Linked DNA regions of Homo sapiens. The protein of the gene in region 2 interacts with the protein of the main gene of each other region in a pairwise test. Each region holds a gene or a part of one and is shown on either strand. Other genes may lie near its edges.

Region 1 (8,046 bases), on a different chromosome or scaffold from region 2:
GTCTCAGCCTCCCGAGTAGCTGGGATTACAGGCACCACCACCATGACCAACTAATTTTTTTATTTTTAGTAGAGATGGGGTTTCATCATGTTGGCCAGGCTGGTCTCGAACTCTTGACCTCAGATGATCCGCCCCTCTTGGCCTCCCAAAGTGCTGTGATTACAAGCGTGAGCCACTGCGCCCGGCCAACTGTGTGTGTGTGTTTTTTTTGTTTTTTTTTTTTTGAGACGGAGTTTCGCTCTTGTTGCCCAGGCTGGAGTGCAATGGCGCGATCTCAGCTCGCTGCAACCTCTGCCTCCCGGGTTCGAGTGTTCTCCTGCCTCAGCCTCCCGAGCAGCTGGGATTACAGGCGCCTGCCACCACACCTGGCTAATTTTCGTACTTTTAGTAGAGAAGGGGTTTCACCATGTTGGCCAGGCTGGTCTCGAACTCCTGATCTCAGGTGATCTACTCACCTCGGCCTCCCAAAGTGCTGGGATTACAGGTGTGAGGCACTGCACTCGGCCTAAGGACAGGTAATTTTTATCAGCCATGAACTATGAAACATAAAAACAGAAACCAAGTGGTCCTAGGCTGCTGATACCTTCTCCCTTAAGTGAGCCAAGATAACAGATGAAAAAGTGAAAACAGAGTTACAGCAATGTCTAGTACCAAAAAATCCATGAACACAGGTGTGGAATCAAACCCTTGGCTAATAATGGTTTGAAAGCAAGATCTGGTTGTAAATTCAACAGGGCTATATAATCATCTTGCAATTTCACATACAACCTGTAGGAGCTTGTTAGGTTACCAGAAGGTTGAGAGGAACAAGGCCAACATGACAGCTTGCAATTTTCCCTCTGCAGTTAACTCATATCTGAATGCCGACTATTATGCCCTTTGCAAAAATGATCTCCCAACATTTTCTCATCTTCATGATGCTCACTTCACAATGCAAAGCTAGAAGTTCAGGGTGATTTTCTATCTAGAAAGAGCCCAAATCCTCAAAAAAAAAAAAAAATCATTAATAGTTCAACTAGGTTGAGGTGGAATAAGCCTTTTCCTAATTTTGTATTTCATGCAAATCAACTAATAGAAAAACTACTTCCAAATCTAAATTCTAGTTAAAAAAAAAATGACTGTAGACACTACATAGAACATTTTTATCTGACAGAAATAAAGAACAAATAGTGGGTAGTTATTATATGGCACTGCTTTAAGGTATCAAACGTCAGTCACAGATCTTACAGTGTTCAGGAAAACAAACTAGTACTAAAAAATAATGACCATTTATTAGATGTCCACAAGGGGTTACTGTAAAAAGAAACTTGTAAGTATGCCTGACCACTAGGTACGGTACTGAAGCTGCAACAGAAAACATGGCACAATGAAAGCATTTTAAGTTTTCCCAGATTTGTAACTAAAATGGCTTCCTGAGGAAGTGAATCTTCGAGCTAGGTATGAACGAAGAGCCTTAAAAAGTGGTCTGATGGTGAGAGGCTGTGTACGGCCTTTGGAATTGCAGAAACCCTACCTCCAACAGGCTAGAACAAGGTAAAGAGAAAGTGGCTCTTCAAGAAAAAAAACCCCAAAGAATGACGATTGGTTTTCTGAGCACTGACTTTCAGCCTGGTACCTTAGCCTTTCAGGTTAGTCCTAGGAAGCAGCAGGTGAGGAAGAGGCTCAGCAGAGCAGTTCCCCCACGGCCCTAGCCCTCCCTCCACGACTTCCTTTTCCACCAGGACTGAGTTCCAACTCCTAGAACTGCCCGCCCCGGCCAGAATGATGACGGAGAATGCCAAACACATAAGTGCTTTTTCATCGTTGTACTTCCACTTAAAAAATCCTGACAACTGAGTTCAAGACCAGCCTGGCCAAGATGGTGAAACCCTGTCTCTACTAAAAATACAAAAATTAGCCAGGCGTGGTGGCGGGCGCCTACAATACCAGCTACTCGGGAGGCTGAGGCAGACAATTGCCTGAACCCGGGAGACGGAGGTTGCAGTGAGCCGAGATCGCGCCACTGTACTCCAGCCTGGGCGACCAGAGCAAGACTCGCCTCAAAAAAAAAAAAGAAAAAAAAAAATCCTGACAACCACCAGACTGTCTCCTGGAGACCAGAGAAGTGAGTGACAGAAAGATGAAAAGGTACAAGAACGCGTTTAACTTAATATTCAGTTTGTACAATAAACAACAAAAACTAGTTAACTACAATTAAAAATGGTTGTCCATCACTCGAACAACGAGAAACGGTAGCTCTTACCTTCCTATTAATGGCCAAAAGGAAACCTAGCTGCGACTTCCAACCCCGGGCCCCCGCCTCTTTTTCAATTCCAACCTAAGTTTTCAGGAGTATGCTTAGGTGACGCGAGGCTTTATTCTGTTTTGAAAGGGATTCACTGAGAAAGCGAAAGGTCCACGCTCTGATATCCAGCCGGAGAGTAGTAACCGCGTCTCCGAGAGGCGCGGACCAGACCGCGAGTCCAGGCTCCGCAGCGTTCGGGCGCCCGTCTTCTCCTCCCAGCGAACACGCACCCGCTGGGGAGTCCGCGCCGCTCCGCGGGGAGCCGGGCACCAGCGCAGGCACCGGGAGGCCAACGAGGCGGCGGCCAGCGCCCTCCCGCCCCGGGCACGCTCTCCCGCAGGAAACAGCTGGCTCGGGACGCCACGGAGCGCCTCTGGGAGGAAGCGCTAGGCACGCGGTGTCCGCACCGGGCGCGCCCCCATCCCGGGCCCGTGAGGGAGGGGGAGCGGCCGGGGCCCCGCGTCCCGACGCCCGACGCACGGGGTCCCAACGCGCGGGCAGCGGTCAATGGCCGCGAACTTCACGACCCCAGCCCCGCGGGGCCTGGCTCAGGGTCCCAGCCCCCGAACCCCGCCACGCTCGGGCCGCGACCGTTACGGGGCCCTCACCGACCCAACGCCCATCCCGCTACGCGCCGCCCCCTCGCTTACCTTCTTAGGGTCCGGGTTCGCGGCCAGGCGCGCCTGCAGCTTCTCCACAACTTGGAGCGCCGACTCCGCCGCCATCGCTGTCACTGGCGCGGCCTCCTCGCCGGAACTGGGCTCGCGTCGCGTCCTCGGGCCGCAGCTCCGCCCTCCGTGCATCCCCGGCGGAGACGGAAGCGCGCCTGGCCCCTTCCGGGCCTCGGCTGGGGTGTGTGGGGGGCGGTGGGCTGCAGGCTCCGCCCCCAGGGCCCGCTCCCCAGCGCCCACCCGGCGGCCGCGCACTCCTCGCGCCCCTGGCCCAAGTGTGCGCGCTGGGGGCTGGGGGCTGCTCGGGCCGTACGCGCCTCCGCCGCCGGCACCCCCGCTCCCTGTGCTCGCGTGCTGAGCCCAAGCCTGGAAGACCTCTCCAGGGTCTACTTCAAGACGGAATGAGGCCACCGCGCCAGACCCTGGCCTTATAAATGCCAACGCTTTCTCCCGCCTGGGGCTTAGCCACACCCTAATCAACACCTTGTCAGGGGTCCCGGGCTGGTGCCCGTCCTAGGAGTCCGCAGGCACCCGCGGTAGCAGCCACCCTAGGCTGAGCACACGATGCGTCAGTAGTTAGACTATCTTTTCCAGCCTCAGTACAACCTGATGAAACGAGTTGTATGATCTTCATTTTACAGATGAGGAAACTGAGGTTCAGGGAGACCAAATTAACTTGCAGATGGCCGCAGGACAGGAAAGAACTGAAAATGGAACCTGAATCTAAGATGTCTAGGACCATTGTGAGCGCACATTTCTGAACAGGTCGAGGAATTGAGGCCCAGAGAAAGGGATTTTTCAAAATCCAAACAGCTTAGTTCCTTCCATGAGGCAATAATAGCCCATGTGTCTTGTTTTCCCCACAAACAGTGTCTGGCACATAGGCACTAAATAAATACTTATTGCATGAATGTATAGATAGATAGATGTTTCCTCTGATGACTTGCCAATGAGCCGTATGGCTTGATTAGAAGAGCCCAAGATATTATTCTTCAGGCCGTCTACTCTCATCCTAAAAGCACTAAGTTTTACCATTACTAATACTACTACTAAAAAGAGCAACTAAATAGTTGCAAACTCACTTAAAGTACCAGCACTGATTACATCTCATTTGATCACATCAAAGCAGAACCTAATCAGATCTTCAGCAGCAAATTGGCAATGCACCTAGCCTGATCTCTCCCTCAAAGCAGGAAAGCCCAGAGATTCTTCCAGATTCTAGCTCTGGAAGAAAGAAAAACATCTTAAACACAAGTTGTTTCTTCAAATGAGCATTCATTCACTCACTATGCTGAAAAGCCCTCTCTACCATGTCCCTACTCCTCCATTTGGCGCCCCTCCCCCAGTTCCCTAAGCAACTGACCACCTTTTCAGGGTGTAAATGGTCAGTTTATTTATCTGTCTTGCCACTGGGCTGTTTATTTATCAAGTACAGTAACCGACCTGTCCAACTTTGAATCTCTGCCACCTAGCATCATCTAGACCTTATAATCAGCATTGGATATAAAGTCCATACAAGACTAATGACCATCCACTTGGTACCCTAAGGCTCAACTGAGGGATGTTGTAGAAAAGGCATTGAACTGGGTGTGAGAAAACTTCGATTCTAGTCCCAGCAGTAGTGTCTCCCTCCTCTGCGTAGCAAATACTTTTACATTTTATATTCCTTCCATTTTGAAAATGTACCACTGGTGTAATGGAATACAGACTGATTCTTGAAGCAGAATTGCTGAGTAATTGGCCTGGCACATACTCGGGACACATGAAACATTCTGCAGATGTTATCCAGAGAGAGCTCAATAACCAAAATGAAAAGAAACAATGAGGTTGGGCACAGTGGCTCATGCCTGTAATCCCAGCACTTTGGGGGTCAAGACGGGAGGACTGCTTGAGCCCAGGAGTTTGAGACCAGCCTGGGTAACGTAGTAAGACCCAGCCTCTACAAAAAATACAAAAATTTTAAAATTAGCCAGGCATGGTGGTGCGTGCCTGTGGTCCCAGCTACTTGGGAGACTGAGTTAGGAGAACCATTTGAGCCCAGGAGATCAAGACTGCAGTGAGCCATGATCGCACCACTGCTCCAGCCTGGGCAACAGAAAAAACAAAACCAAAAAAAAACAGAAAGAAACAACGAATGCTTCTGGGGGATCCTGGAGTGGGTGTGCTGCTCCCAGACAGCCACCCCTATGTCAGACTGAGTCAGGCTTACCTGCAAAGTACTCTTACATTTGGATATATGACTTTTTTTTTTTTTTTTTTTTGAGACAGAGTCTCACTCTGTTACCCAGGCTGGAGTGCAATGGCGAGATCTGGGCTCACTGCAACCTCTGCCTCCCAGGTTCAAGCAATTCTTCTGCCTCAGCCTCCCGAGTAGCTGAGACTACAGGCATGCGCCACTACGCTCGGCTAATTTTTGTATTTCTAGTAGAGACGGGGTTTCACCATATTGGCCAGGCTGGTCTCGAACTGTTGACCTCAAGTGATCCACCCGCCTCAGCCTCCCAAAGTGCTGCGATTACAGGCATGAGCCACCACGCCTGGTCTGGATATATGACTTCTAGGATGAGCAGCTAATTATACATGTGTAATTCTCTGATTTTTTAAAAAAACTTTTCAACCACTTCTAAAATTGGTACTCTGTATGTATTCACTGGGGGATTACCATTGTAACCCTTGGTTTACACACGAGTGTTCAACACAGGAATGAGATCCCTAAGGTCAGAGGCTATTTACCCATCTTCAATCAGCAACATTTAGCACATAGGTGAGATTCAGTAAGTTTCTTGAAAACTGAAATAATTATTATTAAATTTAAATTATTAAATATAAGGCTAGCCTGACGTGTCATCTGAAAACCTAAGAGGGGCTCCTCAGCTCTCTTATCAGCACTACAGAGCCCTCTGCGAGAGTAACTAAAAGACCCATCCTATTCTGTTTGGGAGATGAATTCAAGGCTATACTAGGGGAGGAGGATGGGCAAGGAGGCTCTCATCTGCTCCGTACACTTTTTTGAATTTTTGCAGCAAGTATAGTCTACTCAGTATAGTCTCGTTCAGTCGCCCAGGCTGGAGTGGTGACGCGATCTCGGCTCACTGCAAGCTCTGCCTCCCGGGTTCATGCCGTTCTCCTGCCTCAGCCTCCTGAGTAGCTGGGACTACAGGCGCCCGCCACTACACCCGGCTAATTTTTTTTGTATTTTTAATAGAGATGGGGTTTCACCGTGTTAGCCAGGCTGGTCTCGATCTTCTGACCTCGTGATCCGCCCGTCTCGGCCTCCCAAAGTGCTGGGATTACAGGCATGAGCCACCGCACCCAGCCCTTACTTTATTTTTTTTTGAGACAGGGTCTCACTCTGTTGCCCGGGCTGGAGTGCCCTGACACATTCACGGCTCACTGTCAGTCTTGACCTCCTGGGCTCAAGTAATCCTGTTGCCTCAGCTTGGGACTACAGGTGTATGCCACCATGCCCAGCTAATTTTTTTATTTTTATTTTTTGTAGAGAAAAGGTCTCACTAGGTTGCCCACGCTGGTCTTGAACTCCTGGGCTCAAGTGATCCTCCCGCCTTAGCCTCCCAAAGTGTTGAGATTCCAGGCATGAGCAACTGCACCCAGTCTGGTCTATTTTTATAATGAAAATAACTTAAAGGTATTTTAATTTTGGAAAAGAGTAATCCTAGGCTGGCTAGCATTAGAGAGATTTAAAACACTGAAAGACAAGTTAAAAAAATTTTCAGGCCGGGCGCAGTGGCTCATGCCTGTAATCTCAGCACTTTGGGAGGCAGAGGTGGGTGGATCACCTGAGGTCCGGAGTTCGAGACCAGCCTGGCCAACATGGTGAAACCCCGTCTCTACTAAAAACATGAAAATTAGCCCAGCGTGGTGGCACCTGTCTGTAATCATAGGTACTCAGGAGGCAGAGGCAGGAGAATTGCTTGAACCCAGGAGGCAGAGGTTGCAGTGAGCCAAGATTGCGCCATTGCACTCCAGCCTGGGCAACAACTGTCTCAAAAAAAAAAAAAAAAAAAAAAATTGGCCGGGTGTGGTGGCGGGTGCCTGTAATCCCAGCTACTTGGGAGGCTGAGGCAGGAAAATCACTTGAACCCGGGAGGCGGAGGTTGCAGTGAGCTGAGACTGCGCCATTGCACTCCAGCCTGGGCAACAACTGTCTCAAAAAAAAAAAAAAAAATTGGCCGGGTGTGGTGGCGGGTGCCTGTAATCCCAGCTACTTGGGAGGCTGAGGCAGGAAAATCACTTGAACCTGGGAGATGGAGGTTGCAGTGAGCTAGACTGCACCATTGCACTCCAGCCAGAGCAACAAGAATGAAACTGTCTCAAAAAAAAAAAAAAAATCAACCATCTTGTCCTCATAGCAGAGAGGAGCCCTTTCATAAAACAGTCAAGTAAGATTCTGCGGGCCTGACAGTGTGCTAAGTGAGGCATGGTGGCTCAAGCGGGCTTCCTCCTTGGACCTCTTCTGCCGAGAGGTCTGCCACTCTATCTTAGCAAGTAGGCAGCATCTGAAGTTGCTTGGATGGTGGTGTAAAGAACAAAGCTTGGAGCTTAGTGACAACCTGGGCTCCAATCCCAATTCCACCAATGCTAGCCATGGCTCCTGATCAAGTTACTTAAACTTGCTGAAATTTTTTCCTCCTACTGTATAGATATCCTGAGGCTTATTAATATGTCAAGTAATTGGCATATAATAGGTCTTTTTGAAAAGGCAGCAATTATTGGGGAAAATGCATTGCCTTGGTAAAGAAAATATAATGTGCTGCTGTAAAGCAAGATATAAAATCCTCCATCTGGCAAGTTTTTTTTGTTTTTGTTTTTGTTTTTGTTTTTGTTTTTGTTTTGAGACAGAGTCTCGCTCTGTCAGCCAGGCTAGAGTGCATTGGCAGGATCTTGGCTCACTACAACCTCTGCCTCCCGGGCTCAAGCAATTCTCCTGCCTCAGCCTCCCCAGTAGCTGGGATTACAGGTGTGTGCCACCACGCCTGGCTAATTTTTGTATTTTTAGTAGAGACAGGGTTTCACCATGTTGGCCAGGCTAGTCTCGAACTCCTGACCTCAGGTGATCCGCCTGCCTCAACC
Region 2 (4,438 bases):
AGCGCAAAACCAAAGAGCAGCTGGCTATCCTTAAATCCTTTTTTTTACAGTGCCAGTGGGCACGGCGTGAGGATTACCAAAAGTTAGAACAGATCACTGGTTTACCTCGGCCTGAGATCATTCAGTGGTTTGGTGACACACGCTATGCCTTGAAGCATGGGCAACTAAAGTGGTTTCGGGACAACGCAGTACCTGGTGCCCCTAGTTTCCAAGACCCAGCAATTCCTACACCACCACCATCAACCCGCTCCTTGAACGAAAGGGCTGAGACACCACCTCTGCCGATCCCTCCACCCCCACCGGATATACAACCCTTGGAGAGGTACTGGGCAGCCCACCAACAGCTACGGGAAACTGATATCCCTCAATTGAGTCAGGCATCAAGGCTTAGCACCCAGCAGGTGCTGGATTGGTTTGACTCTCGATTACCTCAGCCAGCTGAGGTGGTAGTTTGTCTAGATGAAGAAGAGGAAGAGGAGGAGGAAGAACTGCCAGAAGATGATGAGGAAGAGGAGGAGGAGGAGGAGGAAGATGATGATGATGATGATGATGATGTGATCATACAAGACTGAGTGGGGAGCTGGGGGAGGGGAGGTCTGTTACTGAAAGATGAACCAACTTAGTAACTGTTTAAACAAAGAAACCACATTTTTAAAATTACCTTGTGGCAGAGAACTAAAAAGCTTTGTGTTCTTCAGGGTGGGTGGCAGGGGGATATAGTGAGGGTGGACCAGGGAGAATGACCATAGGGCACTAAGTAAGGCTGGGATTGGATCAGCAGAAATCCAACCCTCTAACCTTAGGGTAGGGAGTGCTAAGGATCTGGGGAAACCATGGGCTGGGAAGCTGCTCTTGCTCTCCTCGTGTCTGCTGTTTTTTTCCCTTGGTGTACTATACAGAGGCCAGATGTTGGCACCACCTCTCCAGGAGGATTGGAAAGGAGGAGTAAAGGATTCTGATTTGATTGATGATTCCAGTGCATCCCCAATCCCACCATCTTACCTGGAATATAAGGCTGCCTTGTACCCCTTTTCTGAGCACAAGTCTGTGCGTAATGCAACTGACTCTCTTACTTTTTTCTTAGTAACTGATCATTTCCTAGACAACCAAGATTCTCAATAAGTCCCAGTCTCATCACAAATATTAATATTTCCTTTTCCTCATACCAACTTGACTATGTTTCACCCGCTTCATGACTAAATCACAGGTGGCAGAATTTTTCAGTTCTTTTTTTTTTTTTTGAGGTGGAGTCTTGCTCTGTCGCCCAGGCTGTAGTGCAATGGCGCAATCTCAGCTCACTGCAAGCTCCGCCTCCCAGGTTCATGCCATTCTCCTGCCTCAGCCTCCCGAGTAGCTGGGACTACAGGCACCTGCCACCACACCCGGCTACTTTTTTATATTTTTAGTAGAGACGGGTTTCATCATGTTAGCCAGGATGGTCTTGATCTCCTGACCTCATGATCCGCCCACCTTGGCCTCCCAAAGTGCTGGGATTATAGGCATGAGCCACCGTGCCCGGCTATTTTCAGTTCTTATGCTGTGACCACTTTGCCTTGTAGCTTTTTCTATCTTTCCAAAATCCTCACTCTGTTCATTGTTTGTCTCAGGGAAAATCTTCCCCCACCGAGCTTGTAAAAAACTTTAATAATTGGGTGGAGAATAATTTAGAATGGATATTTATTGGAGGTGGTAATTAGGGAAGATGTCCTTTTAAACAGTAGAATTGTGTTACAAAGGGGTGAAAGAGAGGGAATAGTTTCTCCTTGTTGAAGGGCAGTGAAGGTAGGTTTCAGGTTTGGTTTTACAAACCTGTTAACTACCTCCTGTCCAGCTTGACAGAGACTAATTTTTCATCTTTTTGCTGTCAATTTGTTTCCAGAAAAGAGACTTTTCCCTCTCTTGATAGGATCTGTCTTAGGGACAGAGGGACCATCGTCTTTAAGTGAATTAATTATTGATGTTTTAGAATGGTTTTCATCAGTTGGGATCAGCTATATGGCAAATAGGTATCATCAATGAGTTAACCATCTAAAAATAAAAGAGTGGAAGCCCTAAAATGCTAGAATAATAATAAAAAGGCCAAAAATAAAATTGTTTCTCTCTCAACCACTTTGCCACTCCTATGGTTTAGGGATTAATGGAACCAAATCCATTAACATTCTAACTCAGCATACTTTTAACTTATTGTTTGGAGGGGCAGGACTTATTGAGGTAAATTAAAAGAACAAAAACTGTAAAAAGGAAGTAGTTCAGCATCTATCGCCAGCCAGGTTGTTTCTCAGCCATCAAATGATAATGACTAAAATTTCTGAGGCTTCAGGAGTAACAGAGATACAACAGTCTTGGAGGTAACTCCATTTGCTACAGGACAGGCCCTTGCCTAAAAGAGAAGGTATCTAGAAATGCCTTTAAAATAAATTCAGAGTACCAGAAAGGGTATGGGGATCCTAGTTCAGATACAAGATCATTCCCAAGACCTAATTTATTTCTGGCAGATGCCTGCTATTTTCTGTTTTTCCAGTATTTTTGCTTAAGGCCAGCTTGTGAGTGGCTAACCTATTTAATTCGTCATTTCTGCCTTTTAAAACCCAAAGTAGAATACATGTTTGATCTCAGTGATAGTGTTGTTCGCCCATTCCACCATTCTAGAGCTTGTAAAAGTGATAGAATTGTAGCAATAAAAGGGCATCGTCTTTATTTTACTATCTATATACTAAGCTGAAAATCAGTGTCTCCAACAGTTGTTTTCAATAGAAAGGAAAATTAACATTTAATAGTAACTAAGCATAGAGGAAATAATAGACAAATAAAAAAGTATAATAAGGAAAAGAACAGAGATATTGCTCGTTAACATTGGCAATGGGACAGTATATCCAAAGCTAAAAATGAAATCCAGAAATGAAACAGTGATGAGTATATGATCCATCACAATCCCCATTCCCAACTCCCAACCAAGCATGATGCCAAGAATTATTTTTTTGACCTTTGTTCCAAATTGTAGGAAATGAGGGGAGCTACCAGTGTCTTCTGGAAGAGATATAAACATCTTCCTGAAGCACTAGCCTTTTGTAAGACCTGACCACTGTCCTGGGAGGTGATAAGGGTGAATAGGGTAAAGATGGGGGGAGCATAAGGTACAGAGTGAAACTAGGAAACAATGCAGGGATACATTTTCCAGGGCCATCACCCCTAATGCGTACTGGAAGCTACAGTCCATCCTTCAGCAGCATGTATAGATCAGATCTTGAAGATGATCTATCTAGAAGTGGTCCATGCTTCTCTCCCACTGGGTAATCCCATATGCCTCCGTTGTTGGTAGAGAGTCTGCAGCAGAGGACAAGAAGGTAGATGTGGGTGTTTATAACAGCAAAAAGGGCAAGCAAGTCTCTCTGACCTGTTGTATGAAGCTTATCGAGACAGACACCACTGCTTTTGCTTCCCCATAGTTTTCTTCATTGCATGATAACTAACTTTTCCAAACTAGGATTTGCTACATCTAGTGTGACAATCTCTGGAACATTTCAGTAGCTTATGGTGATAATAATAAGGATGAATATTTGAAAATTAAACTATTTTGGAAAATCTGGGACATATGACTACCACACCCAGAGATGACTACCAGGGAGGCAGAGTTCTTAGGCCTCTGAGGAGGTGGCATTTCCTTCAATAACTTTAAAATTTTTTCACATTTTCGGTTGTTTGTTTGTTTGTTTGTTTGTTGTTTTTTTGAGATGGAGTCTCGCTCTGTCACCCAGGCTGGAGTGCAGTGGTGCATCTCCGCTTACTGCAAGCTCCGCCTCCCGGGTTCACGCCATTCTCCTGCCTCAGCCTCCCACGTAGCTGGGACTACAGGCGCCCGCCACCATGCCCGGCTAATTTTTTGTACTTTTTTTAGTATAGACGGGGTTTCACCATGTTAGCCAGGATGGTCTCGATCTCCTGACCTCATAATCCGCCCGCCTCGGCCTCCCAAAGTGCTGGGATTACAGGCATGAGCCACCACGCCTGGCCCACATTTTCAAAAAATACATAGAATAGTATAATGAACTCATGTGCCCATTGTCCATCTTTAACAAATAATTAATGGCCAATCTTTTATTTCTACTCTCCCAGTGTCCCTCCCTACTAAATTACACTGATGCAAACGCCAGACATCATTTGACTTTCCATCCATAAATACTTTAGTATGTACCTATAAAAGAGAAAGGCTATTTTTAAAAACATAACTACGATATCATCATACCAAAAAACTCTCCAATGTTAACAATTATTTAATATCAAATGTCCAATAGATAATTTTGTTCAACTGTCTCATGAATTGTTTTATTTATTTTTTTTACAGCTTGTTTCAGTCAAGATCCAATTAGGGGCCATATATTTGTAGACGGTTTATAGAGCTTTTAAGTCTTTTTTCATCTTAGGTTAATCCCTCCATTTG
Region 3 (7,227 bases), on a different chromosome or scaffold from region 2:
TGAACTCTGGAGACAAGGTCTCTGTTCATCTTTATGTCCCTCAGCATCTATGTCCTCTTTTGTACATCAAGTGCAATCAATACATGCTATATTGAAGGGCTTCTTCCACCACCAGCAGTTCACCTTGGAATCAGTTCCTAGGAGGCAGGAGCTAGCACTGTCTCGGAGATGGTGTGTGTGCCAAGCCTTCATTTTATTCTCTTTTCAGAGAGGAGGGGGAGAAAGTATTGAGACTTTGCCTCAGTGTCCTCCTGGGGCTCAGTTTTCCTTGGCAAACTGGGAAGTGGGAGATCCCAGGAAGGGAGTATTTCCTTTTTTTCCCTCATTTCCCTCTGGGCAGTTATCCCTGGAGTTTTTGGTTATGTGAGCCAATAAATCCCCTCTCCCTTAAGCCATTTGAGTTTGGTTTTATCACTAATTCCAGGAAAGTCTTGCCTAACACATCTGTGGTCATAGAATACCAATCCCCACTCTAAGGGGTGCCACTGGCTCAATGCCTAGCACTTAAAACCCAGGGTGACCACCTCAAGAGAATAATGCCAACATCCACTGACCACTTCTGAAGTGACAAGTGTTCAAGTTTTATATATTCTCATCTGCTGTCTCTTGGCCTCTTTTCAAACTACCCGTGTCCTTATCTTTTTTTGAGACGCGTTCCAAATCTGCCGCCCAGGCTAGAGCGCAGTGGCGCGGTGTTGGCTCACTGCAACCTCCGCCTCCCAGGTTCACGTGATTCTCCTGCCTCAGCCTCCTGAGTAGCTGGGATTGCTGACGCGTGCCACTATGCTCGGCTAATTTTTGTATTTTTAGTAGAGATGGAATTTCGCTATGTTGGCCAGGCTGGTCTCAAACTCCTGACCTCAGGAGATCTGCCCGCCTCGGCCTCCCAAAATGCTGGGATTACAGGGCGTGAGCCACTGCGCCCGGCCACCCCAGCATTTCTAATCATCCAACCTACAGACACTCATGGGAGAGATACAAGAATGCTCATTAAGCATTGTTTATAATATGAAAAAATGGAGACAAACTGAGGCTCTTCCAGTAGGAAACAGGTATACCATGTCAGGAACCACTGTATGTAGCTGGAAAGATTTCACTTTTCCCACTTGTGTGCTCATGGGCAAATGTTTAATTCTCCAACACCTTAGTCTCCTCCTCTGTGAGGATAATGATAGGGTCTGCTCCAAAGGCTGTTTTGAGTGAAGAGTACCTGGTGCATAGTGCACTGCTTAATAAAAGTTGTGGGTGATCTTTGTTATGTTTATATGAACAGACATTGAAAGATATGCATACTACACTGGCATGTAAAAAAAGCAAGCTACAGAATGAAATGTTTGTCAAATACATGTGCAAAGATTAGGTCGAATTATATGAAACTAGTATTTCAGTAGGTCAAAACAATCAAGTGTCAGAAATTTCATATGGTTCAACCTGTTTATTTGTATACAGAAAGAATCTAGAAGACTCACAAACTGTTAACAGTGATCACCTCTCCAGAGTGAGGGGAGAAACTTTCATCTTTTTTTTTTTTTTAAGACAGAATTTCACTCTTGTTGCCCAGGCTGGAGTGCAATGGCGTGATCTCGGCTCACCGCAACCTCTGCCTCTCGGGTTCAGGTGCTTCTCCTTCCTCGGCTTCCCGAAGAGCTGAGATTACAGGCGCCCGCCACCATGCCTGGCTAATTTTTGTATTTTTAGTAGAGACGGGGTTTTGCCATGTTGACCAGGCTGGTCTCAAACTCCTGACCTCAGGTGTTCCGCCCGCCTCGGCCTCCCAAAGTGCTGGGGTTACAGGCATGAGCCACCGCGCCCGGCCAACATTATATTCTTCTTTACTTCAAAATTTTTTTGGGCCGGGTGCAGGGGCTCACGCCTGTAATCCCAGCACTTTGGGAGGCCGAGGCAGGTGGATCACCTGAGGTCAGGAGTTCGAGACCCACCTGACCAACATGTTGAAACCCTGTCTCTACTAAAAATACTAAAAATTAGCCAGGCATTGTGGCAGGCGCCTATAATCCCAGCTACTTGGGAGGCTGAGGCAGGAGAATCAGTTGAACCCAGGAGGCAGAGGTTGCAGTGAGCCGAGATTGTGCCATTGCACCCCAGCCTGGGCAACAAGAGTGAAACTCCATCTAAAAATTAAAACAAAAACAAAAACAAAAAAACAAATTTGGCCAGGCGCAGTGGTTCACACCTGTAATCCCAGCACTTTGGGAGGCCCAGGTGGGCGGATCACTTGAGGTCAGGAGTTCAACACCAGCCTGGCCAGCATGGCGAAACCTCATCTCTACTAAAAATACAAAAATTAGCTGGGTGTGATGGCAGGCGGCTGTAATCCCAGTTACAGGGAGGCTGAGGCAGGAGAATTGCTTGAACCTGGGAGGTGGCGGTTGAGGTGAGCCAGGAAGGATAGTGCCACTGCACTCCAGCCTGGGTGGCAGAGTGAGACTCTGTCACACACACACATACACACACACACCCCCACAAAAAAAAAATTACCACTAACATGTTTTAATTTTATAATAAATTCATTTTTATTTTTGTTTATTTATTTAGAGACGGGGTCTCACTCTGTTGCCTAAGCTGGGGTGCAGTGTCACGATTTCTGCTCACTGCAGCTTCCGCCTCCCAGGCTCAAGCGATCCTCCCACTTCAACCTCCCGAGTAATTGGGACTACAGGCATGTGTCACCATGCTCAGCTAAGTTAAAAAATTTTTTTGTAATACCAAAATTAGCCGGGTGTGGCGGCACACTCCTGTAGTCCCAGCTACTCAGGAGGCTGAGGTGGGAGAATTGCTTGAGCCCAGGAAGTCAAGGCTGCAGTGAGCTGAGATCGTGCCACTGAACTCCAGCCTGAGTGACAGATCCAGACCCTGTCTGGAAAAAAAAAAAAAAAATTCTTTTTTTTCATAGAGATGAGTTCCCATTATATTGCCCAGGCCATGGTGGCTCATACCTGTAATCCCAATGCTTTAGGAGGCCGAGGCAGGAAGAGCCCTCCTGGGCTCAAGAGATCCTCCTGCCTCGGCCTCCTAAAGTGTTGGGATTACAAGTATGAGCTACCACAGCGCAGCCCCGAATTTCTTCATTAACATTATATTCTTCTGTGTGTTTTCTTTTTTTAAACCAGGAGAATATATTGTCTTTAGGATAAAATTTAAAACAATAGGGATGAAAAAGGGTGCCATTAACCCAGTTATTAATTTGCCCTATTAAGTTGCTCTATAATAATATTCTTTTGCTGTTCACTGTTTGTGTGAGCATTTCTGGGTGTTCTACATTCCTTGAGGGCAGCAATGACTCTAATCTCAACCTTGACTCCAAAGATAGTATAATGTCCCCCATTCACTGAATGTTTCTGACTGACTCCTAAAGTCTAACTCAAATGCTCCAATGGTTTCCCATAATTTTCAGAGTAAAAGTTCGAGTCCTTCCACAGGCCTCCAGGCCCCATGTGACCTGGCCTGCTGCACCTTCTCTGACCTCATCCCTCTTGTTTACTTGCCTCCAGCCATTCTGCCTTCTTAATGTTCCTCCAGCAGGTCAGGCATATTCTTGCCCAAGGGCCTTTGCACTTACTGTTCCTGCAGCCTGGAATATTTCTCTCCAGGTCACTGCATGGCTCAAACCCTTTCCTCCTCCCTGTTTTTACTTAGATGACACCTTCTCAGGGAATATATATTCCCTGACCAGGTGGAATATCCTCTGATCACCTTATCTTTTGAGACTGGGTCTCACTCTGTTGCCCAGGCTGAAGTGTAGTGGCACAATCACAGCTCACTGCAGCCTCGACCGCCCTGGCTCAGGTGATCTTCCCATATCAGCCTCCTGAGTAGCTGGAACTGTAGGCGTGCGCCATCACACCCGGCTAATTTTTGTGTGTATATGTGTGTGTGTGTTTTCTTTTTTTTGCAATGTAGTTTTGCTCTTGTGCCCAGGCTGGAGTGCAATGGTGTGATCTCAGTTCCCTGTAACCTCTGCCTCCCGGGTTCAAGCAATTCTCCTGCCTCAGCCTCCTGAGTAGCTGGGATTACAGGTGCCTGCCACCAACATCCAGCTAATTTTTGTATTTTTAGTAGAGATGGGGTTTCAACATGTTGGCCAGGCTGGTCTCGAACCCCTGACTTAGGTGATCCACCCGCCTCGGCCTCCCAAAGTGCTGGGATTACAGGCAAGAGCCACCGTGCTGGGCCTAATTTTTCTATCTTTTGTAGGGACGGGCTTTCACTATGTTGCCCAGGTTGGTCTTGAATTCCTGGGCTGAAGCGATCCACCCGCCTCAGCCTCCCAAAGTGCTGAGATTACAGGTGTGAGCTACCCTGCCCGGCCTGATCACCTTATTTAAACCTGTAACCCAATCCTGCCTGACCTCCATGATCCCTACCCATTTCTGCTTTATTTTCTTCCATGTCATGTATCATCTTTCATCATATTGTACATTTCATTTAGTTTATTATCTGCCTCCTCTGACTAGAATGTCAGCACCACAAGGGTAGAAACATTTGCGTTTTTTTCACTGTGGTATCACGGGGCCTGGCACCTAATGGATGCTCATTAAGTATCTCTTGAATGAACTTAAACACTTCATGGGAAGAAGCAGACAAAATACAAAAGCCAGACAGAGATTGACTAAATCCCAGTGAGCATATTAACCTTACTGGGCTTCAGTTTTCATCTCTCTAAAAAGGGAGTCTTAGGAGAGGACCTATGAATGCCCTCCCCGACCCAGGACAGAACCTGCCACATAACAGCACAGTTATTTGAGCTTAGTTCTGTCGCCCTGTACTGTCCCTAAGACCTGCACCTCACCTGCACTTTTGCCATTGGATCCTGAAGAACCCAGGGCAGAGACTCTGACCCCCGCGTGCTGTCAGATAGTAGGACAAGGAAGAATTAAATGCCCAGACACTCAGGGCCTCTCTCCAGAGAGCTGGGCCGACCTCAGACTGTCAGCTTCCTGTGCCTGGGTGCGGTAGGGGTTGGGGGTGGAGAGAGGGTGTGACTAGGGGAGGGGTCATGCTGCAAAGGAAATGGCAGTGACAGAGGAGTTGTGAGCAGGAGCTCACTTGCAGATCTCCATCAGTCCTCAGCCCTGGATCAGGGGACTCTCATTATCCTCATTTTAGAGATGAGGAAATCAAGGCTCAGAGAGAGGAAGCGTCTTGCCCAAGGTCTGACTCCAAAGCCCTGCTCTTGATCTCTACAGTGCACTGGCCCTGGCTGAGCACCACAATCACCCAGAGAACTGGTGAAACTGAAACATGCCCGCCCAGCCCAGACCTACTGACTCAGAGTTTCCAGGGGTGGGGTCCAGGTGTATTTTTCACAAGTTGCCATTTGGGTTTCCTCAGAGAGGACTCCCACAGTCTCCACAAACCCAGGGAGCCTCTGGCCTCTGAGTTGGCAGTCACTGACCTTTGAGATGCTTCATCTATTCACTCTTTCCTCTGGAGGCATGTAGGGGAGTAGTTCTCCTCTCAGGACTTGGGGGATCCTCTAAAACTCAAGTGTGGGGATTGGGGATCCTAAAAACTCAAGTGTGGGTGTCAGGTCCATGTTGGCAACAGTCAGCAAGAACTGATTCTGTAGTTTCCAGCCTTCAGGATCCCCAGGGTTTGGGAATCCATAAAAGCACCCAGCAATGATTTCAGAAAGAATTCTCTCCTAAATTGACTTTTTTTTTTTAAGAAAGAATCTCACTCTATTGCCCAGGCTGGAATGCAGTGGTATAACCATGGCTCACTGAAGCCTTGACCTCTCGGGCTCAAGCGATCCTTCCACCTCAGCCTCCAGAGTAGCAGGAACTATAGGCAGGAGCCATCATGCCTAATTTTTTTCATTTTTTGTAGAGTTGGGGTCTTGCTATGCTGCCAGGGCTGGTCTCAAACTCCTGGACTCAAGTGATTCTCTTGCCATGGCCTCCCAAAGTGCTGGGATTACAGATGTGAGCCACCTTGCCCAGCAAGGTCTTTAAATGAATCTAGGTTCCAAGTGATCCTTTTAAAAGACACAGATCCAGCCAGGTGCAGTAGCTCACGCCTGTAATCCCAGCACTTTGGGAGGCCAAGGCAGGTGGATCACCTGAGGTCAGGAGTTCAAGACCAGCCTGGCCAACATGGCAAAACCCCGGCTCTACTAAAAATACAAAAATTAGCTGGGCGTGGTGGTGGGCACCTGTGATTCCAGCTACTTGGGAGGCTGAGGCAGGAGAATCACTTGAACCTGGGAGGTGGAGGTTGCAGTGAGCTGAGATTGCACCACTATACTCCAACCTGGGTGACAGAGCAAGACTCTGTCTTAAAAAAAAAAAAAAAAAGACACAGCTCCTTTTAAGAGTTACCAAATGTATTCTAGTGGGTTACTAGAAAAGCATAACTACTATCATGGAGGAACACTGGAAATTTTAAAAGGTGGGAATCTTTGGATTAGCTGTGTCACCTGCTGAGAGCAAGAAGGGGCTGTAGGGGTTGGGTGTGGGCATCAAAGGAGACAGAGGCCCAGTTAAGGGAAAGGAGAGGCTGCATCATAGACCAATTTTACCTACTTGAGGTACAGAATTTATTCTTTAGTTTTGTAGGACAGCTTGGTGATCAACCCCCTGGTTTATAGATGAGAAACTGAAGATGGACAGTGACTTGCTTAAAGTCACCCAGATGGGGAGCAGTACGGATCCAAGCCTGCGTGGTTCTGAGTCAAGTGCTCTGCACATCATTAAATCATCCTCCCCTCCCTACCCACAAATCCTAGCCTGGGGAGACCAGTAGCACACAGGGGTCAGGACAAAGCTAATGATCCTAGCCAGCCAGCAGGTTTTTGGACTGGAGCTGTTCTTAACTTTTCCTCCACTAAGGAGAAGGTGGTTGTCCCTCTCCAGAGGAGGCAAAACCTGAAGCTCATTGATTCTCAGTGGGCAAGAGTCTCACTCTGGGCTCCAGGACTGCCCTGAATATCAGCTGGAGGTGCAGGAGACTGGAAGGCCCCTGTCTACCCTCCCTCCCTTCCCCCAGCTCCTGCCAGTCAAGGAGGAAGTGGTAGGCCTGGTGCCACCCAAAGATCCTCATCAAACCAGAGACACACTGCTCCATCTACATACCCCTTCACCCCACTGCCTGATAGTCAGTGGGGAAGGAGGCCAAATTATCAGCTGATCCTCCACTAGTTCTAAAATCAAAACTGCTCCCCTGGGTAAGAGGGTGTGTTCAGTAGGACACACATCATTCCCAAGG
Region 4 (3,192 bases), on a different chromosome or scaffold from region 2:
ATTATGGTCACCATAATAATTACAGACGTTATAAGCCACCTCCGATCATTTTTTAAAAAGAGGAAGCTCTAAAATAATAGTTATCAGTCCCACCAGTTGCCCGGGGTGCTTTGTTGTGAGAAGGGGGTGGGGATTGGGAGTATACTAAGTCTCTGGGAATTGGGTCCCATGGTCTGCCCTCGGGGTTGGCTTAGCTTTCTCTGAAGAGATTAGTGAGCCCTCTAAGTCCACCACGCTTGGAGACAAGGACTTTTGGTAAGAACTGCTCAAGGGCCAAGAGTATGCTCTGGGACCAAATGAGAAAAGCCCCTTACCCGAGGCTAATTTTCTTACAACTTCATTCCTTACAGTATGCAGCTGACCCCCAGGATAAGCACTGGCTGGCTGAGCAGCATCACATGCGGGCAACAGGGGGCAAGATGGTAAGCATTATTCATTTGTGCCACTGCCAGTGACCCACCCCACCTGGGAACCAGGATTTTGGCTGTGGGTGACAGCCTACCTCCAAATCTGACTTCCAAAGCCTCACCAATGTGTGAGAAGAGAGACTTATAAGGCCTATTTCTTCATGCTGAAGAGCAAATTGTAATCTTCAGGTTCCCTTCCCTATCCCTAGGTCTCCCTTCCGCCCCCTCACACTTTTACCTCATGCCTCCAAGATCACATATTTGGATACTATTAGCTGTCCATAGGAATAGCAGGTATAAGACACACAGTACTACTTTTTCCCACTACTGCACCCACTGACAGATTTCACTCATTGATCACTCTTCCACCAGACACAGCTATAGAATCTTTTCTCAACACAGTACTTGAGGCAGCAACCCTTGTCAGTAGGAGTTAGCAATGAAATGTGTTTGCACACTTGGCAGCCCCTTCCAGATTTACCTCTACTTGAAGAGTTCTCAGATCATATGAAACAGCAACCTTAGGAAAATCATCATTGCATGTGTTCAAAAACTATTGTTGAGGGCTTTGTCCATCACACACAATGTCCCCCACCTGAGGACTCACTCACTCCCACCACAGGTACTGCTCCTTTTAGAATCTAAGTGCCTTACAAACTGATATGCCATCTCCTTTCTGGCAGTGAGAGCTACCTTTTATTTTATTTTACTACTCTATTTATGCCTATGCTTTACTTCAAAAAAGATTTCAGGTAAGCTTCATGCACATAAAATGCAACATTACATAAATAAGAAATAGATGGTAGGGGGTGGGGGCAGGACCTAAAATTAAGCCACCAGTAAAAGTAGTTCTTTAAAAAAAAAAAGTGTTTTTTATATTGCTGACCTGGGAGACCTGTGCACTTCTACAGATGTTGGCAAATTCAGCTGTAGGCCCCACTCATGGACACCTGATCTGTTATGGTTCATAGTGCCCATAAGATGTAGACAAATTACTCAAGGAATACACAATTATTCCTGACCCTAACATTAGAAAGTCTCCCACAGAAGACTTTCTAATATGATGAATATCTCTTCCTATATGTTAAGTTCACAAAAGGGCCCTCACCCACTGTAGACCGAGGCATTGTGACAAAGCATTTCTACAGGCCCCAGTACAATACAGGCCAATTACTAGACAGCAGAGCAGTTTATCATGTTTTCCATTTTGCCACAAAGTTCAAAACCAAGTTATCTTTGTCCTCAGAGGGAGCACATGGTTTCCTCTTCCTGATTTCCTGTTTCCATATATATTTTGCTGGCTTTCTTGCCATTTTGTTATAACCCACCTTGGGTCCTTTCGTATACTTGATCTTAACCAAAAGGTGTAGGAGCAATGGTGGATCCCTTTTTTTTTCTTTTTTTCTTTTTTTTTTTTTTTTCTTAATTTTCACCACACCATTCAAGAGAGAAATGGGTCCTTTTTTAAAAGAGAAGGCTATAAATAAGTCACCAGTCCCTACTCTCCCATCCATGAAGCATCTACTGTAGTAAAAGATTGTCTCAAGGAACCATTCCCATCCCTCCCCACTTACTCTTCCGTACTAAATTGTAAACCGCATCCCCCGCTTCCACCTAGTAGCAGGCCTTACATTAAACAGATGTTTAATGAAGTGTTACTGAGTTGGAGTGAAATGAATCAGGCAATGACCACTCTCCCTTGCTCCTGCCTCAGGCCTACCTCCTCATCGAGGAGGACATCCGGGACCTTGCGGCCAGTGATGATTACAGGTAAAACCAGTGGGTCTCCTGCCCCTTCTCCTCTCCCTGCCTCCAAATAGCCCCTAGAATGAGGCAGGGCCTACATCCTCACTTCCCCCAACTTCTCTCTTCAATGTCTGTTCCAGAGGATGCCTGGATCTGAAGCTAGAGGAATTGAAATCCTTTGTCCTACCCTCCTGGATGGTGGAGAAGATGAGAAAGTATATGGAGACACTACGGACAGAGAATGAGCATCGTGCTGTTGAAGCACCTCCACAGACCTGAGGCCGGGTCCCCTGGCCACACTTGGCAGCCCTCCTCCAAAGCCCTCTTCCTCACGTGGCTGAGGCCACCGCTGGGACTGCTCCTAGATGGATCTCAGCGGCATTAAGCTGTGCCTGAGCGAGTTTGTAGTGACTCACTGCACAGCACCCCCAGACTAGCATGTGGTTCTATATTTGTAAAGTTATTGGGATAAGAAACAATTAAACAGTTTGTAGTAAACACAGATGGTGAACCTGCTGTGCCCTCTACCTTGTGGGAATTGACAGAACATCAAGGGCTCTAGAAGTGGGTGTAGGAAAAAAGGACGAGATAACCCTCACCCATAACAGTATAGAGCCAGGCTTGATAAGACCAACCTGGGAGCACCATGTACCCTGCCCGTCTTCCCTTTGCCCATTTGTAGTTTCCTTACCCAGCTAATGTAAGGACATGGCAGAATGCGATGGAGTTTGATGACAGATCATATGAAAAATAGAGTTGGCTTTTATTGCTCCCATTTTACAGGTTAAGATACTAAAGGACCCGCCCCAAGGTTACACACTACCCACTGGGGAGGTAGGATATACAGGATATGAACCTGTGTTGTTGGGGTTTTTGTTTGTTTGAAGACAGTCTTGCTCTGTTGCCCAGGCTAGAGTGCAGCCTCTGGCTCAAGCGATTCTCCCGCCTCAGCCTCGCCAGTAGCTGGGACTACAGGCTCGTGCCACCTCACCAGCCTTTTTTTTTTTTCTTTTCTTTTTTTTTTTTTTTCTTTTAAGTA

What was found.
Region 1: the proteins of HOMEZ (region 2) and ELOA interact in binary tests that used the Homo sapiens proteins (3 or more experiments, as listed by UniProt).
Region 3: the proteins of HOMEZ (region 2) and DEF6 interact in binary tests that used the Homo sapiens proteins (3 or more experiments, as listed by UniProt).
Region 4: the proteins of HOMEZ (region 2) and DNTTIP1 interact in binary tests that used the Homo sapiens proteins (3 or more experiments, as listed by UniProt).

The regions. Positions count from the first base shown.
Region 1 is NC_000001.11:23,738,467-23,746,512, reverse strand, and holds the start of ELOA (elongin-A), read right to left. Parts: upstream 3,043-8,046; 5' UTR 3,010-3,042; coding exon 2,935-3,009; intron 1-2,934. UniProt on the Homo sapiens protein: SIII, also known as elongin, is a general transcription elongation factor that increases the RNA polymerase II transcription elongation past template-encoded arresting sites.
Region 2 is NC_000014.9:23,271,709-23,276,146, reverse strand, and holds the end of HOMEZ (homeobox and leucine zipper protein Homez), read left to right. Parts: coding exon 1-572; 3' UTR 573-3,255; coding exon of another isoform or gene 3,256-3,324; 3' UTR 3,325-3,725; downstream 3,726-4,438. Other genes in the region: E3 ubiquitin-protein ligase RNF212B, read right to left, coding at 3,256-3,324. UniProt on the Homo sapiens protein: May function as a transcriptional regulator.
Region 3 is NC_000006.12:35,300,818-35,308,044, reverse strand, and holds part of DEF6 (differentially expressed in FDCP 6 homolog), read right to left. Parts: intron 1-7,227.
Region 4 is NC_000020.11:45,808,764-45,811,955, forward strand, and holds the end of DNTTIP1 (deoxynucleotidyltransferase terminal-interacting protein 1), read left to right. Parts: intron 1-350; coding exon 351-422; intron 423-2,121; coding exon 2,122-2,177; intron 2,178-2,293; coding exon 2,294-2,432; 3' UTR 2,433-2,655; downstream 2,656-3,192. UniProt on the Homo sapiens protein: Increases DNTT terminal deoxynucleotidyltransferase activity (in vitro). Also acts as a transcriptional regulator, binding to the consensus sequence 5'-GNTGCATG-3' following an AT-tract.